Linked DNA regions of Homo sapiens: regions 1, 2, 3 and 5 are each reported to be linked to region 4. Evidence: microRNA targets listed by miRTarBase, many of them from high-throughput screens and not tested one by one. Region 4 holds a microRNA gene; each other region holds the end of a gene's coding sequence.
Evidence for each region. The annotated mature microRNA hsa-miR-1-3p reads UGGAAUGUAAAGAAGUAUGUAU and lies in region 4 at 943-964, shown strand. An mRNA with a match to its seed (bases 2 to 7 or 8) in the 3' UTR can be bound and repressed. Matches are read on the target gene's strand: a 7mer-m8 pairs with bases 2 to 8, a 7mer-A1 pairs with bases 2 to 7 and ends in A, and an 8mer does both.

Region 1: the mRNA of CEBPZ is a reported target of hsa-miR-1-3p. Seed matches in the 3' UTR shown: 8mer at 2,656-2,663.
Region 2: miRTarBase lists RBM47 as a target of hsa-miR-1-3p. Seed matches in the 3' UTR shown: 7mer-A1 at 823-829 and 7mer-m8 at 2,482-2,488.
Region 3: the mRNA of SRGAP1 is a reported target of hsa-miR-1-3p. Seed matches in the 3' UTR shown: 7mer-A1 at 129-135.
Region 5: the mRNA of HACD3 is a reported target of hsa-miR-1-3p. Seed matches in the 3' UTR shown: 7mer-m8 at 610-616, 8mer at 2,000-2,007 and 7mer-m8 at 2,093-2,099.

Annotation. Positions count from the first base shown.
Region 1 is chr2:37,199,012-37,202,011 of GRCh38, forward strand. CEBPZ (CCAAT enhancer binding protein zeta) reads right to left here. Exons shown (of 16, transcript NM_005760.3): 16 at 2,601-2,892. The coding sequence ends at 2,753. CEBPZOS (CEBPZ opposite strand) reads left to right here. Exons shown (of 5, transcript NM_001322374.2): 2 at 693-808; 3 at 2,037-2,081; 4 at 2,631-2,715; 5 at 2,852-3,000. The coding sequence starts at 694. The coding sequence ends at 2,713. Among named protein-coding and RNA genes, the nearest start is that of CEBPZOS, 4.0 kb to the left of the region's middle.
Region 2 is chr4:40,423,491-40,426,490 of GRCh38, reverse strand. It overlaps RBM47 (RNA binding motif protein 47), which reads left to right. Exons shown (of 7, transcript NM_001098634.2): 7 at 348-3,000. The coding sequence ends at 587. RBM47-AS1 (RBM47 antisense RNA 1) reads right to left here and starts at 358. Exons shown (of 2, transcript NR_199039.1): 1 at 309-358. RefSeq lists an enhancer at 1-1,069.
Region 3 is chr12:64,142,265-64,145,264 of GRCh38, reverse strand. It overlaps SRGAP1 (SLIT-ROBO Rho GTPase activating protein 1), which reads right to left. Exons shown (of 22, transcript NM_020762.4): 22 at 1-2,970. The coding sequence ends at 2,593. Among named protein-coding and RNA genes, the nearest start is that of KICS2, 79 kb to the left of the region's middle.
Region 4 is chr18:21,826,828-21,829,978 of GRCh38, reverse strand. MIR1-2 (microRNA 1-2) reads left to right here and starts at 891; the gene lies at 891-975. All of the region lies in intron 12 of MIB1 (MIB E3 ubiquitin protein ligase 1), which reads right to left. It overlaps MIR133A1HG (MIR133A1 host gene), which reads left to right. Exons shown (of 3, transcript NR_110369.1): 3 at 527-3,151.
Region 5 is chr15:65,575,909-65,578,908 of GRCh38, forward strand. It overlaps HACD3 (3-hydroxyacyl-CoA dehydratase 3), which reads left to right. Exons shown (of 11, transcript NM_016395.4): 11 at 395-2,441. The coding sequence ends at 471. It overlaps INTS14 (integrator complex subunit 14), which reads right to left. Exons shown (of 12, transcript NM_001394796.1): 12 at 2,849-3,000. Among named protein-coding and RNA genes, the nearest start is that of INTS14, 34 kb to the right of the region's middle. RefSeq lists an enhancer at 2,966-3,000.

The sequences.
Region 1 (3,000 bases), not on the chromosome of region 4:
AAAATAGCCAGGCATGCCAGTGGTCCCAGCTGCTCGGGAGGCTGAGGTGGGAGGATTGTTTGAGCCCAGTGAGCTGAGATTGTGCCACTGCACTCCAAATGCCTGAACTATGGCACAGTTTAGTATATGTTGTATTAATAGTTTAGTATATGTTGTATTATTAGTATGTATCAGTATATAGGATATCTATACTATCTATAATATATAGTATATGTAATAGTGTATGTTGTATTAATAAATGAAGAACTCCAGCCCTTTAGAAAGTGTAGAACCACTTGAGAAAGATCTTACTTTTGTACGGCACTTTACAAAGAGCTGTTTATATATTGTATCCATTTAGATTATTTCTTAACTCCCAGTGCAGCTAAAAAATTATCTTCCCCATTCTGTTTTCCTACACAATTAAATAATTTTAGTTCCGTAAATTGTTCTTTTTACAACGCTTTCTTGCATTTTCTCTCTTTCCTGTGCTTTATCCAATTTTGTCTTTGGTTCATCATGCCCCTCAGGCATGGAGTTTGAAAACTAGGTAGATAGGATGTCTAAACCAAAAAAGTATACCATAGTATTGGTCTTACTCCCATACAGAGAAGCCATTCAAACTGTGGGAATGAATTTGAGTTATTAGAGAAATGATAATAGTAGTTTAAGTATGTTCATTCAGGTTTACACATATCTGTTGTTAAATTTAGGATGGCCCGTACTTTGGAACCACTAGCAAAGAAGATCTTTAAAGGAGTTTTGGTAGCCGAACTTGTAGGCGTTTTTGGAGCATATTTTTTGTTTAGCAAGATGCACACAAGCCAAGGTAATCATAATTCAGAAGTTAATGCTTTCTAAAGGGGTATAGTTTTGCTAATCCATTTTATGTGTTAAATGGCAATGGCATGTTTGGAGAAATTGGTTCTTCAGATTCAAGATATTAGACATTTTTAGGGGCAGAACAGGAATCAAAGTATTCATTATTGTGGACTAGATCACTCTCACTTCTCCCTTAAAAATGTTGTTTGTGGGCTAAGGAAAAAATTTCATACCTCCATGGATTTTACTATTGTGGAGGATATAGCAAGTGTCCTTGGTCTGGCTTAGTTTGGGAGCACAGATGGAGGAAACTTAGCCTGCCCATTATACTTCATTGTTTGGTAGACTAAGAAAGTAACTGGTATTGCTGTTTTCTGAGTAACCAGTTTTCTCAGGCTATAGTATTCTTCCTGGGCATCAACAGTGGGCACTAAGACTTTCACATGCTATGGCCGAAAGTGCTTTAACATTTTTCTTGGGGAAATTTTATATTAGAGCTCTCAACTTTTTAAATTAGGAAGTGATTTTTCCCTAAAACAGGGAATAGACCTGGCATGATAGCCATCTTTGAAACTTGCCACAGTCTTCCTCAGCATACTTGGTTGGAACGCTGTACCAAGATGCTACTGGATACTCAAAAAATCCCTTTTCTTTTAAACTCTAAGGAAGGGTATTAAAAAAACATCCCAACAGTATTTAAAAACAAATTAAAGCTTGGGATCAGTTTTAAAAAGTGTCATGGCTGGGTGTGATGGCTTGCACTTGTAATTCCAGCACTTCGGGAGGCCAAGGTGGAAGGACTGCTTGAGCTCAGTCTGGGCTAAACATAACAAGACACTGTATCTTAAGAAAAAAAAAAAAAGTGCTGGGCATGATGGTGTGCTCCTGTAGTCCCAGCTACTCGGGAGGTTGAGGTAGGAGGCTCCCCTGAGCCCCATCCCAGCTACTTGACCTTGGCTGACGTAGGAGGCTCGCTTGAGCCCAGCCCAGGGGGGTCTAGGCAGTGGTGGATTGTGACTGTGCCACTGTACTGCAGCCTGGGCAACAGGGAGAGAGATCCTGACTCAAAAAAACAAAAGGAGATCGTTCCTGGATTACCAGAAAGACCTTCAAACAAATTTCTAATCTATATGGTTCCCATCATATGGACCCTAAAGCTAGCATTAAATTGTGGCTGTGTTAATATAATGAATTTCTGTTCATATCTAATTTCAAGACATCCTTTTTTCCATCAGATTTCAGGCAAACAATGAGCAAGAAATATCCCTTCATCTTGGAAGGTATGTTTTTCCTTAAGTAAAAATAAGTATAAAACAACTTCTTCAGGTAACCTATAAATTATGTAGTAATTTCTTTACAAGGAATTTCTAACAATACTATTCACATGTATTTTAGTTCTTCTGAGACTAAATTCTCATCTATTCTAGTGAGAGGAGAATTAGGTAATGGGCTGGATTCTGAATTCTTCTAGTGGTTAAGAATGTAAACTCTGGAATCATTCATATATGAGGTGATAGAATCAAACCACAGTTTAAACCTTTGGTTTTAAAAGATCAGTTTCATCTCAGGTTTGCTAACTTCTTGGAGCTGTCTCTTTCTCTGTCAAGTAGATAAAGACTGAACAAGATGACATCATGTAGTTAGACGAAATAGTGCTCATTACAATGATCAGAGATGCCAGGACTTATATGTGAAGTCTGTAATCCTACTGTCCTCTTTTTCATTTTGTTATGTAGCAATATGGAAAAAAGAAGTTGTTTTTTTCAATACATTTAATTTTAACAATGCTTCCACATGACTTTATAAATGAGAGCTATTTTTATTTATAGTTTATTACAAATCCACTGAGAAGTCTGGAATGTATGGAATCAGAGAGCTAGATCAAAAAACATGGTTGAACAGCAAAAATTAGATGTAAGTAGAATTTTAATCTATAATTTACATTAATAACTCATTTCCTTTGTTTTTTAGTTTTTTGAGTGGTTTTAATCCTCTTCTTTTTAAAATGTTTCTTTTTCTTGATGATACTTTTTGCATCTCTGTTGTGTAGCCAGTCATCACGTTCAGCCTCCCATCTAAGCTGTTTGAGACCTTTGAGAGAAGAAGAAAAGATGAGTGTACTACCACACTGTAGACTCTTGGTGGTCCCACAGAACATGCTGCTGAGTCACAGGAACTTCTAGCCTGCCTTGGCCTGTG
Region 2 (3,000 bases), not on the chromosome of region 4:
CTCTCAGGGACTCGAGCATCTGAGGATTTTGGTATCCACGGAGGTCCTAGAGCCAATCACCTGTGAGGATACTGAGGGGCAACTGTATTTCACCTTTCCCTCAGCCTTCCAGGCCTCTCACTTTCACAAGGTGGCATCACTGAGTTTGAGGATGCAGCTCCACCTTACCTCTTCAGTGGCTCTTCTCCCACTTGCTTACAATAATTGCTGTTTGCCCGCCCCTCTGCCTTTCTCTCCCTTGCTTTTGTGTCTTTGTATTCCCGTCTTCTGGGAGAGGCTTGTTGAATGAATGGATGATAGGTACATACACGTGTTCAGGAAGGCTCCTTTTTGTCTCTTCTCCTCAGGGCCGCCCAATAACTCCAGTATACACGGTGGCTCCAAACGTTCAGAGAATTCCTACTGCCGGGATCTACGGGGCCAGTTACGTGCCATTTGCTGCTCCAGCTACAGCCACGATCGCCACACTACAGAAGAACGCGGCAGCCGCGGCCGCCATGTATGGAGGATACGCAGGCTACATACCTCAGGCCTTCCCTGCTGCTGCCATTCAGGTCCCCATCCCCGACGTCTACCAGACATACTGAGGCTGGTGACCAGCACGAAGACAGACCACACAAACACCACTGAAGGAACGCTTGACTATTTATGAAGAAGGAACATGTTGGATTCACACATGCAACCTGAAAGTGAAGAATGTTAGCAGATTTATTTCTGAATTATTTTATATACATGAAGTTTTCACTAGTTTTTTAAGACTATTTTCAACTTAGCATGCCTACGTTCATACATTTCCAAAAGACTTGCAATGGTTCGTGCCTTCATTCCATCTTTTAAAAATTTGTATGCTGTACTACATTTGTATAGAGGTTTTTGTTGTTGTTTTTTTAAGGATATATTTTCAGTATGAAGGTTATTTTCTTAACTTCTGCACTCCAGAGATTTCTATTTTGTAGTACCTTCAATAATATATCAACTATATATTAAAAAAGCACACTTGAGGAGCTAGGGAACTATTTTGAAAAATATATACAATATTTAAAGATACAAACAGTAGTGCTTAAAAATACTACATAAAGCATTATTTTAAAGGTTATACTGGAAAGTGCAATTTTAAAATGAGTAAAACCTCTGTATTTCTGCTGGCATTAAGGGTTGATGGTGTTACCATGTATCATCATGGCGGTACTATTTTTTAAAAGAAATTAAACACTGGATCTCTCCTTAAGCCAACATTGAAAAGACTTGCCGCACTTCTGAGTCCAAACACTGGAAAGCTCTCCTTTGCCACCGTTAGCCGGGGCTCATTCTCCATGTGCCTTAGCCTTAAACATGCCCCCACTCCCACATCTCTCACCCTGTCCCCTCCTCCCCAGATTCCCAATCCCACCGCAATGTTTGGCAAGCCTAGGACTGATAAGTAGCTCTGATAGAGGAGCTGGTGGCTTTTATACTTCTTCCTGGGTTTTTGTTGGGGTTTGTTGTTTCGTTGTTTTTTGTTTTTTTTTTTGTTTGGTTGGGGAAGTATTGTCTTCTACGTGTGCTATTTTCAGTAGCAGAGTAAGCACAAGGTTTTAATCGAGTTGCATAAGACACCTTTGCATAGCTATTTAATTGCCCAATGTAAAACTTTAATGCCATTTCTAATGCTTTTATTCATTTTTGAAGTATGAGTTTGTAGGGACAAAGAATGTATGTTATCGTAGACAAGACCCCCAGAGACTCTTTTCAGCAGAAAGTTATGCTTCTAGTTGCCTTACCATGTTTCTTGCAAAACTGTCCATGGTCCTCAAGGGTGTTGGAAACATTATGTTTATTAAATGGGCCTCTCTTCCTTTGCTGTGCACTTGATGGGTGAACTGGATTGGGGTGTGCACATCCAGGAGGAGGAGGAGAGACCTGTAGAAGTTTAAAGATAGTTTGTAAATATCTTCTAATGCTTGTTTTTAGTCCTTTTATGTTGGAGAAGTTCATGGTATGTAGTTTAATGCAAAATGAAACCATTTTATTTCAATGTTATTAAAAAGGTTTGTTTTATTAGGAAGTTAATGTATTGTTGCAGTGTTTTGTGCCTGTTTAAAGGCTTTTGTTTAGCAGAGTGAATGTAAAATACAGTAAAATGTTAAGATTGTCATCTACTTTTTAAAAAAAAATATCAACTTGGAATTGTTTTTTAAAGGCTCAATCAAGGAAGTGAGGTGTGCAATAAGGTAGCAAGTAAAACGCAGTTGCGTTTTTATGTCATGTTAGAGATCCATACAATTTTCCACTCACGGGATTTTTGTTGATGGCTGAATTCTTGTGGATTCATAAGAGGATCATGCCCTTAGCAAGTACTTTTGTTTTGTTTTAAATTAAGAGATTCCCAAATGCCTTTTTCCCCCTCATCTTGAAATGAGATGAGTTTTTATGTGTAAGCAATATTTATTTAACTATTCTATAAAATTATTGAGTGCCTACTGAGGCCTTTAAGCACCGCTAACATTCCTTTCCATCATTCTTTTAAATGACATAAAATAATTGTGCAATGTTCCTGATGATGTACCCCACAAGCTGCATTCAAACTCAAATCTGTGGGAATGAGTGACTCGACAAAATGTAATTCGGATCAGATCCTCATCCCCTGACTGTGTGAAAAAAGTACTCTCCTTCTAGTGAAGGATTGTCACAGAGTTTCACTGGATGAAACTATGACCCAGTATTCTTACTGTATTTTACATATGCCTGTAAATTATTTGCAAAAAAGAAGAAGAAGAGGAAGAAAGAAAAGAAAGAAAAGAAAGAAAGAAAGAAAGAAAGAAAGAAAGAAAGAAAGAAAGAAAGAAAGAAAGAAAGAAAAAGAAAGAAAGAATAAAAAAAAATGATAACATGGCAACCACCAAACTCCCTTAAAAACAAACATTGGTGACATGGCCAATTAAGTATCAGTGAGCCTCCTATCTGGGACTTATCTGTTCCTATTGTTTCAAAACCATTTCATGTACACTACTGAGGTAAGTT
Region 3 (3,000 bases), not on the chromosome of region 4:
AGAAAAGACATTGAAAAAAAATAAATTCAAAGACACCTCTGGCCCTTTGATGCCCTCTGTTAACATCTTACTCTTCCATCAAACAAGGAATATGGTTTTTAAGAATTCTTACTATTTTAAAGAAGTGGTGGAATGGCCGGGCATGGTGGCTCACATCTGTAATCCCAGCACTTTGGGAGGCTGAGGCTGGTGGGTCACCTGAGGTCAGGAGTTTGAGACCAGCCTGGCCAACATGGTGACACCCCATCTCTACTAAAAATACAAAAATTAGCTGGGCGTGGTGGTGGCGCCTGTAATCCCAGCTACTCAGGAGAATTGCTTGAACCCGGGAGATGGAGGTTGCAGGGAGCCGAGATTGCACCACTGTACTCTGGCCTGGGCGACAGAGCAAGACTCCAACTCAAAAAAAAAAAAAAAAAAAAAAAAAAGTGGGGGATTATTTTGGAAAGTTTAAATTCCTAAGGAATTTGTGAGGATTGTTTAAAAGGGCTAGTGCTATTCAAAGCTCAGTCTTGGCTGGATCTCCACGGTGTCCAAGGGTGCTGAAGGACCCCAAAAGCTCAGGAGAAATGGGGAGGGGCTAGACAAGGTGCTGTCCTGGGCTTCTTTTTCAAAATGGGCAAAAAGTATGGCTCTGAAAATTTGGAGGTTTAAAAGTTTACCATACCTAGAAATACATGGGAAAAAAGTCACTATTCATTTGTGAAATTAGGCCCCAGGCAAGCAATCAGCAGTGTGACTCTGAAAGTAACAATATCTCATCAATTTAATCTCTTCCTGCAATAGAATGACTACACTGGCAAACTGAGGTAGAGATCAAAGTAATGATCTTGATTTTAGTACAGATCCCAGTTCTTTTCTGCACGATGCATTCACCAATGGGCTGATGAAGTAAAATCTACACTGTGTAGCTCTTAGATGGGCGTGCAATTGGCTGCCAGTTTGAAATGAAACCAAGAAGGAAATTAATGGTGGGCCAGAGGGATTAGTTGTGGGAAATCCATTTCTCCCAACAACAACAACAACAACAAAAATCTTTATCAGTAACTTCAATGATAGAATAGATAAAATGCTCATAGGTCTACAGGTGATATCAGCTGCTGCTAGTAGGAGAATGGAAATCAAAGCAAATTTTCTTAAGATGGGGGAAAATGTAGCATAAATATAGGCTTAAAAAATTGCCTGTGTGCTAGGATGCCAGAGAAAGAGGGTCTCCAATTGAGAGTTCAGCTGACTATGGGAGTTACATAGAGCCCACATACAAAACCAAAACCAAAAAGGGGAAAAGGGACAAAGAAAAAGAAGTTGTGGTTGTGAGGTACACAACTGGGTGAGAACCACAAGGCCATGTTCTGCTGATGGCCCTGCATGGCTCTTACTCAGGTACCAGGGCCAGTTCAGGGTTGGCTCAAAGACAAATGGAGAGGACAGTTGGGATTTCAAATTTAGGATCATCAGGACTTTGTAGCATTTTTTTTTTTTTTAAGAGACAGGGTCTCACACTATGCTGCCCAGGCTGGACTCGAACTACTAGGCCCAAAGCCATCCTCCTGTGTAAACCACCCGAGTAGCTGGGAGTACAGGTGTGCACCACCATGCCTGGGCTTTGTAGCATGTTTAAAGGAACCTAGGTGATTTAGTCAAAAGAGAACACTGCATGAACCAAGGCCTCAGGTGCTTCTTGCTGCCTTCATTTCCACAGAGGAGAACACAGGGATTTAGAGGAGATGGAAACATTTTCTAGGCAGTTATTGAATAACGGATCTTTGGAGGAGTTCGTGGAGTAGTGTAACCAGAAAGTCTTTAAAATTAAACCCTTCTAATCGTTTGTAAGTGTAGATGGGGGGACTTGGAAATCTCCGGGGCCTAATCATGCTCGCAAAAGGAGTGACATTAATAGCTTTGGAGATGGTGTCTTCCTCTCCTTTCCCAGGTTAAGTTCAAGCAGTAACAGCAGAGGTTCTACCTCCTTCCATCGAGTCTTTAAGCTGGACCCGGGGAAATAACTGTTAGGAAAGAGGCAAGCATCCAACCCACTCGAGCTGTGGGCTGACAGTCCCACTGGGATCGTCCCATGGAGACAATTGCAAGTCTTTTGCATGAGCTAAACCCCGCTCCACATGGAACCGAAGGTGCTCATTGTCAGCTACCACGCAATGCCATTATCACCTTTCAGCCCAAGTGCCACAGACCAACACTGGCTATACTCCAATGAGGTGTGGCATTCGGGTTCTTCTGCCTTCAGGTCACAACCTTTCTGACTCAGCTGGGCTACATTAAACCTGAAGCTCTGTACAATGTGGAGAGCGGTGTTGCCTTCATTACAAGTGGTGCAGCATTGGATTTTCAAGTAAGTCTAAGTGTTTCTATTGTCCTTAAAATGACATATGTCCAGTTATTTAAAAAAATTACAAAATACAAATGCCCGTGTTAATTTAGCTAGTCTCAGACATTACATTCGACAACATAGAAAAGCCAAAAGATCTCCAGTTATAAGCACAAAACTAAGGAAAGTTATGGATCAGTGACTTTTGTCACTAATCCATTTTCTTTTTTAAGTCACCTCCCTTTATGGCCTTGCTTGGCTGGTTTTTACATTGTGCATGACTTGTCTGTTGGACCCTGGGGAGGTGGGGCAGGTCCTATGGTAGGATTTGTTTTTGGAAGAACAGCAGGTTTTGGCCTAAGGGCTGGAGGCTTCAGCTGCACGCCCATTCTGGGTGCCACCATAGGCTTGAAAGTACTCATTGTGTCACTGGAGGAGCTCGTGCTACGTCGAATCTGAGGCTCGGAGCTCCTGAGGGCAACGTTGTGCAAAGGGCTGAGAGATTCCGTGGAAGTGGCAGGGGTGGGAGAGTTTTTCACTTGCTCCAGGGTATCCAGCACCACATCAGGGGCATGCTTTGCTGTGCTCTGTCTCTCCAGTTCTCGGAGTTCATTCAAAGCTGTGTTCATCGTTTCTTCAATATCCTATTGAAGAATAATCGGAAAGAGAGAAAG
Region 4 (3,151 bases):
GGCTACTTACCAACTATAATTTCTTTTCATTCTAAACTATCAAGGTAAATAAAACCCAGGTGCTCACAGACTAAAACCTTTCAGTTCTTTGAAGTGATACTTTCTAAAAGTTGACGATTCTGACAGTTATCCTTTATACTAAAAAGATTAAAGAATCAAAACAACTTAAACTCACCAAAATTAGATATTTCTACATCTATTTGAATTTGTATTCAACTCATATTTGTATTTAACCCAAAGAGAAGCATCAAAGTGCAAACTTCAGGTAAGGAACTAATAAAGAAAAAAGAATGACAAATTTTCAAATGATCACGAGTTCTTATCTGTGACCTTATAAAACACTAACAAAAATTCATAATCTTTAAAAAAGTTCAATTCACCCACACTCATCCTGGTTTTTCTCCTTGTTGTTTCAACTTCTAGAGTCAATATCAGAAATACTTATTGGTTAATTTGTTAGGTTTTGAGTAAGATATCTAGTTTGTAAAAAAAAAATTGAATTTAATTAATTACTATCTACCTGTAGGATCTAGAAGCAGACTACAAAAAAAGAAGAAATTCACTCTGAAGACTGAAGAAACACTAGGCTGATCTTAAGTTTCCGAAATACACTCTGTAACACTACACTGATTCTTTGAATCTCTTGCAAAAAGAATCAAACCAGGACAAAGTTCAACAGATAACTGGTCAAATGCTTAGGAATGTCTATGTCCACCAAGAATATGGAACCATTAATGCCATGCTTCAGGTAAACTTGTTACAAAATTTAGTCTTCGATAAATTAGTCTCTGCAAATGATTTACCATTGCTCTACATTAGTAAGCTGAATGTTTCACTAACAAATAAGAAAATAAAATATTTCATGTTTTTACAGCTAACAACTTAGTAATACCTACTCAGAGTACATACTTCTTTATGTACCCATATGAACATACAATGCTATGGAATGTAAAGAAGTATGTATTTTTGGTAGGCAATAAACCACCAAGGGAGAATTAAACTGAGCTAAAAGAAGCTCTTGCTTCTTTCTACGTGAATGACCGTCATATGGTAAATTAACCTAGTCATGAACAGATGACCTTTGGCAATACTAACACCAAAAAAAAAAGGTTATCTACTACTGATAGATAGAAACTATCCCTAAGGTTTTTATTTCATGAAGGAAAAGAAGATCCAGTGAAGTAGATTTCAATTATCATGAAACTCCTTTTAAATCATCTAAGTTTAAAACAGACATCTTACATTTTTAAATTAGGCACTCTCATTATTAAAATTTGACTGCAAAAGGGAAAATAGTATTACTAGCACAAAAGAATGAGGAATACACATGACCTATTTTCTGTCTCCACAATTTAATCTTAAGTATATCTCATTAGTAGGGCTCACTGATTTGTACAGAAAAATAAGATACTAAGAGCTGGCTTCATTCACATAATAAGCTATTTCTTCTCATTTTGATAAATGTATAATTAATATTAGAGGAATTTCTGACCAAAAGTTTTGTTGTTTTAAAAAGGCTTTCTTTTTTGACAGCTACAAACATAGTGGCCCTTGTCCTTCCTTCTCAAGTTTATCAGGGTCTTAACCCAAATCTCTACTTTAAATGTGAAGTTAAAACTTAAAATTAATTAAAATGTAAGATTTAAGCATGAAAAATGACAAAATTCTGGTCCACAGCTGTAAGTCAGCAGGGTATATTGGTAACAGACTACCAAATATTTAAAAGAAATTAATTTATCTGTATTATCTTCGAATTTGCTTTCTCCAAAGAGGGCATGTAAAATGAAAGCACTATAGTCAAGAACCAATTTATACAGATCGAAGAACTGTTTTTATTGTACTATGCAATTACAATTCAATTTCTCTAAACTTGATCAATCCATTGTTTAGAAATATCAAAATACTTTTATTTCACACAGTTTGTATATTATTTATAAAAAATTCCAAATAATGCTCTTAGCAAAATTTATAAGCAGTACCTGTTTTAAGCTACTAATGACAAAGTTAGAAAATAAGAGTAATATTCACATATTCTAACCATTTCTTACTAAAAGTATTATTTCAACTGAAATATTTACACATGTATAAAAGCATAATATTTTAAATTTTTTGTATCAGAAATTGAATGGAAATGACTAAGTTTAACTATAGTTCATTTTCTGTTTAATAAGACTAGTTAATACAAAGATGATTTTCATTTTATCAGATTATAAAGAATGAGAATGACTTACACATGGCATCATATGTGTTACTGCATGTTTACTGGAAATTATAAAAGGCACATAATTTTAAAATTCTACACTTTCAAAGAAATTAGTTCAAAGCTTAACTCACATAAGCATAGCCCTTCTGATCATCCACAAAACAGAATGGCAATGATTCATGTTCTATTTGGTAAGTTTACCTGTATAGGTCCTAAATACCAAGAACTCAAAATATATACCTCAAAAGTAGAGGTTCTTCTATAAAAATACTCAAAGCTTATTACTCTACTTGTGTTTTATAATAAACAGTTATATTGGTCATTCTATAGGTATACAAGTTGTTTAATAATCCTTCTCAAACATCCTAGCAACTAAGACTCTCTTTGCTATAATATTAAGACTATATAAATAATCCTTAGAAAATAAAATGACAGGCTATTCATTTTTAAAAGTAAAATTATATGCTGATTCTGGTGCTTGCGAGTTTAACTTATCTAAGAGTATTTTCAATCACTCTAAAATGTCACATCTATCACTTAGATCAGCTGTTCATTTTTAACTGAGTACATATTAAACTCTGGGCATCTGCTGACACTGGTATAACTCAAACATTTCAACTGTCTCCCTGACAGGGATAACAGATGCTGACATTATCAAATGCTGTACTATTTTTTTCCCATGGCCTCTCCTTGCCCCGATATGGCCAGTATATGAAACTGAACTGCCATCCAAAAACACACTTGAGCAACTGGATCTGCTAAACAGCTCCCATATAACTAGTAAAAATAGAAGCCAGTATTATTGCTATCTTCAGCACTTAAGTTTAGGCAGTTTAACACCTGTTTCACTTCTACTAGAAAAAATGATGAAAAAGAATTGTAGTTAATTTCACCAGCAGTATGATACTTACCAACCAACAGACGCAGAATATACTTAGTGTAAGAGTC
Region 5 (3,000 bases), not on the chromosome of region 4:
ATGGTGAAACCCCACCTCTACTAAAAATACAAAAAATTAGCCAGGCATGGTGGTGGACGCCTGTAATCCCAGCTACTCAGGAGGCTGAGGCAGGAGGATTGCTTGAACCCAGGAGGCGGAGGTTGCAGTGAGCTGAGATTGTGCCACTGCACTCCAGCCTGGGTGACAGAATGAGACCCTGTCGCAATAAATAAATAAATAAACCCACTGGGGAAAAATTGCTTTGTGTCTATTGTATTGTTAATTTGTTCTAAATTGTACTCCTTCCTGAGCCGCTGCAATAAGCTTTTTGCTGTGGAATATGACGACAGCTAGATACTGTCCCTGCCACAAGAGCTTCTGGTTATAAATAGACAAAGACTCTAATTTCTAATTGACCTCTTTTCTTTTTCAGGTTTATACATAAATTTTCGTCACCTTTATAAACAGCGCAGACGGCGCTATGGACAAAAAAAGAAAAAGATCCACTAAAAAGAAAGATTTAGATGGCTTCTTGCCAGTTTGAGCCTAATCTGATTCTTACAGTTTTACCTTCTTGAACCAATGTAAAAGTTTTTTTAATGTTAAATGATTAAATTCTCAGTGAGGCTATCTTCCTTTTCCCCAGTAACATTCCTGAATTTACTGTTATCTTATTGTAGTACTTGCATGACATGGATTCCTGATATCTGATGAGAGGTTCATTCTTGTGTATTCAGTTAATGACACCAAAAGGCTCAGCCCACCCCAACCCTATCTCATGTTCAGTCTGTCTAATACATGCCAGAGATTTTTTTTTCAAAAAGTGCTTTATCCCTACAATGTACTGACAGTTCTTACAGTTGAGATTTGTTCTTTTCAGCTATTGCTTGTGAAAAAAAGCAAGACTATGTCACTCTATAGAAGGCTGTTAAAGTGACTCAGGCAGGAATTAATTATTCTGTACCTAAGGGGTTACTTGTTTAATGGGATGGCATTGACTTTTTGAAAATCAAGTGGACTGAGTCATTGATAAAACATTTCTAAGAGTGGGGCTAGAGAACATACTTTACATCTGACATCCTTTGGCCTAACAACATCTATTATTATAGTGCTCAGCAGTGTGGGCATTGAAGAGGCGCAGAATGCTTTGAAAGAAACTAATCAGAATCTTGGAACATCATGATCATGCCATTCTTAAGTAAATCAACTATTTTCAACACTGAAGAAAAATGAAACATTATTTAGAAAACAATGAGATTACAAGTTCCAAACTCAGCCAGGAATGTGGCTCACACCTGTAATCCCAGCACTTTGGGACACCTAGGTGGGAGCATCGCTTGAAGCCAGGAGTTCAAGACCAGCTTGGGCAACGTAGTGAGACCCCTATCTCTACAAAAAATAAAAAAATTAGCTGGGTGTGATGGCACACACCTGTTGTCCCAGCTACTCAAGAAGCTGAGATGGGAGGATCCTGAGCTCAGGAGGTCAAGGCTGCAGTGAGCCGAGATTGTGCCACTGCACTGCAGCTGGGGTGACAGTGCAAGACCCTGTCTCAAACCAAACCAAACCACACACACACAAACACACATACACACACACACACACGAGGTCCAAATGGTAGCAGGGATCCAAAGGGAACACAGTATGTAGGTCAAACTGGCAGTAACAGTGTACAGCCTTTGACAAACTAGAAATATTAGAGTAGGCCAAACACACCTCCAAACTGTAAGGCTGTGCACAAACATAAAAAATGGCAGCCTTCCATCTCCTGCACTGGCTGAGTCCATTTACTTGTGTACTTGTTCTAGTGAGTGGTGGGACTGTACATTTTTGAATAGACCTCAAAAATACTTCATTCTGCTGCTGTTCAGTTGGCTTTTTAAACCTGTCTGCAGTAGGACACTGAAAACAGCAAGAACTTCGGGGTGAACACCCGCTGATCCTTTAACAAGGATTTCTGGCAGGAAACTCACAAAAAGGAGAACTGAAAATTTAGACATACAGTTGGCCATTGTAAAAAACATCAGTTTCCTCTCATACATTCCAAGTAAACCAAGTAAAATAAGTGTTGGAGTAACACTTGCATAAAAGAATTTAAGGAGTGATAGCTCTTTCTGTTCTGCCATTCCCAACATTCCTGGGGGAAAGGAGACTCAATGAGTTAATACTATTTCACTGAGCCCAAGATGGAAACTTGGTTTGACCTAAAACATCTGATTAATATAGGCTAGCTGATTTCTTAAAAATTCGTTGCATTGAAGGATATTTTGCATGTCTGTAACACCTGTCAATACTTGTTTGTATTGATTTCTGATATTCTTGCAGCTGACTACGTGTAATTGGGCAGATCAGCTTTGCAGTAGATTATGCTGCATCCTCGTGGCAAAATTCTGTATTCTTAGTGATTGTTACAAACCCCTTTATTGCTGTCTGAGAAAGTGAAAGATTGTGTATTTCTATTAAAACATTTACAATCAAAATTCTAATGACTGTGCTTAAAGATAATTTAGTCTAATGGTTCTCTGTTAGTGATAAAGACCTTTGTTCAGGCAAAATATTATGTAGCAGTTCAGCATGTTAAACCAAAAACAGTTGCTCTGGTTGAAGCCTGAGAGTTACATGGAAGGTGGTGCAAATGAAAAACACTGATGATGCAGACAAAGCCTTGAGAAGTTGCCCAAAGTCATAAAGCTAGCTGATAAATTGGAACCATAATTAACTTTGGAATCGGATCGGTGATCTGTCAGGATTACCTAGCCAGAACCTTGCTTAGGCAATGAGGCCTAATCAGTGTCAGAAATAAGGAAACCTCATGATTTATGAATCTATGCCACTTAGAAAGTTGAAATTATATTAAAGTGATAAGACAGACCAAAAGCAAACGACCTTTAGTTTCATAGTGAAACCATTTTCTAGAAAATCAAATATTTTATTTTCATTAAAAAAAAACCTTGAATAATAGGAATCATTTTACACATTAATGGTTGCTCTTTAAAAGTTAGAATCTCAAGAGATACCAAAAGCACTTAAGAGTTACCA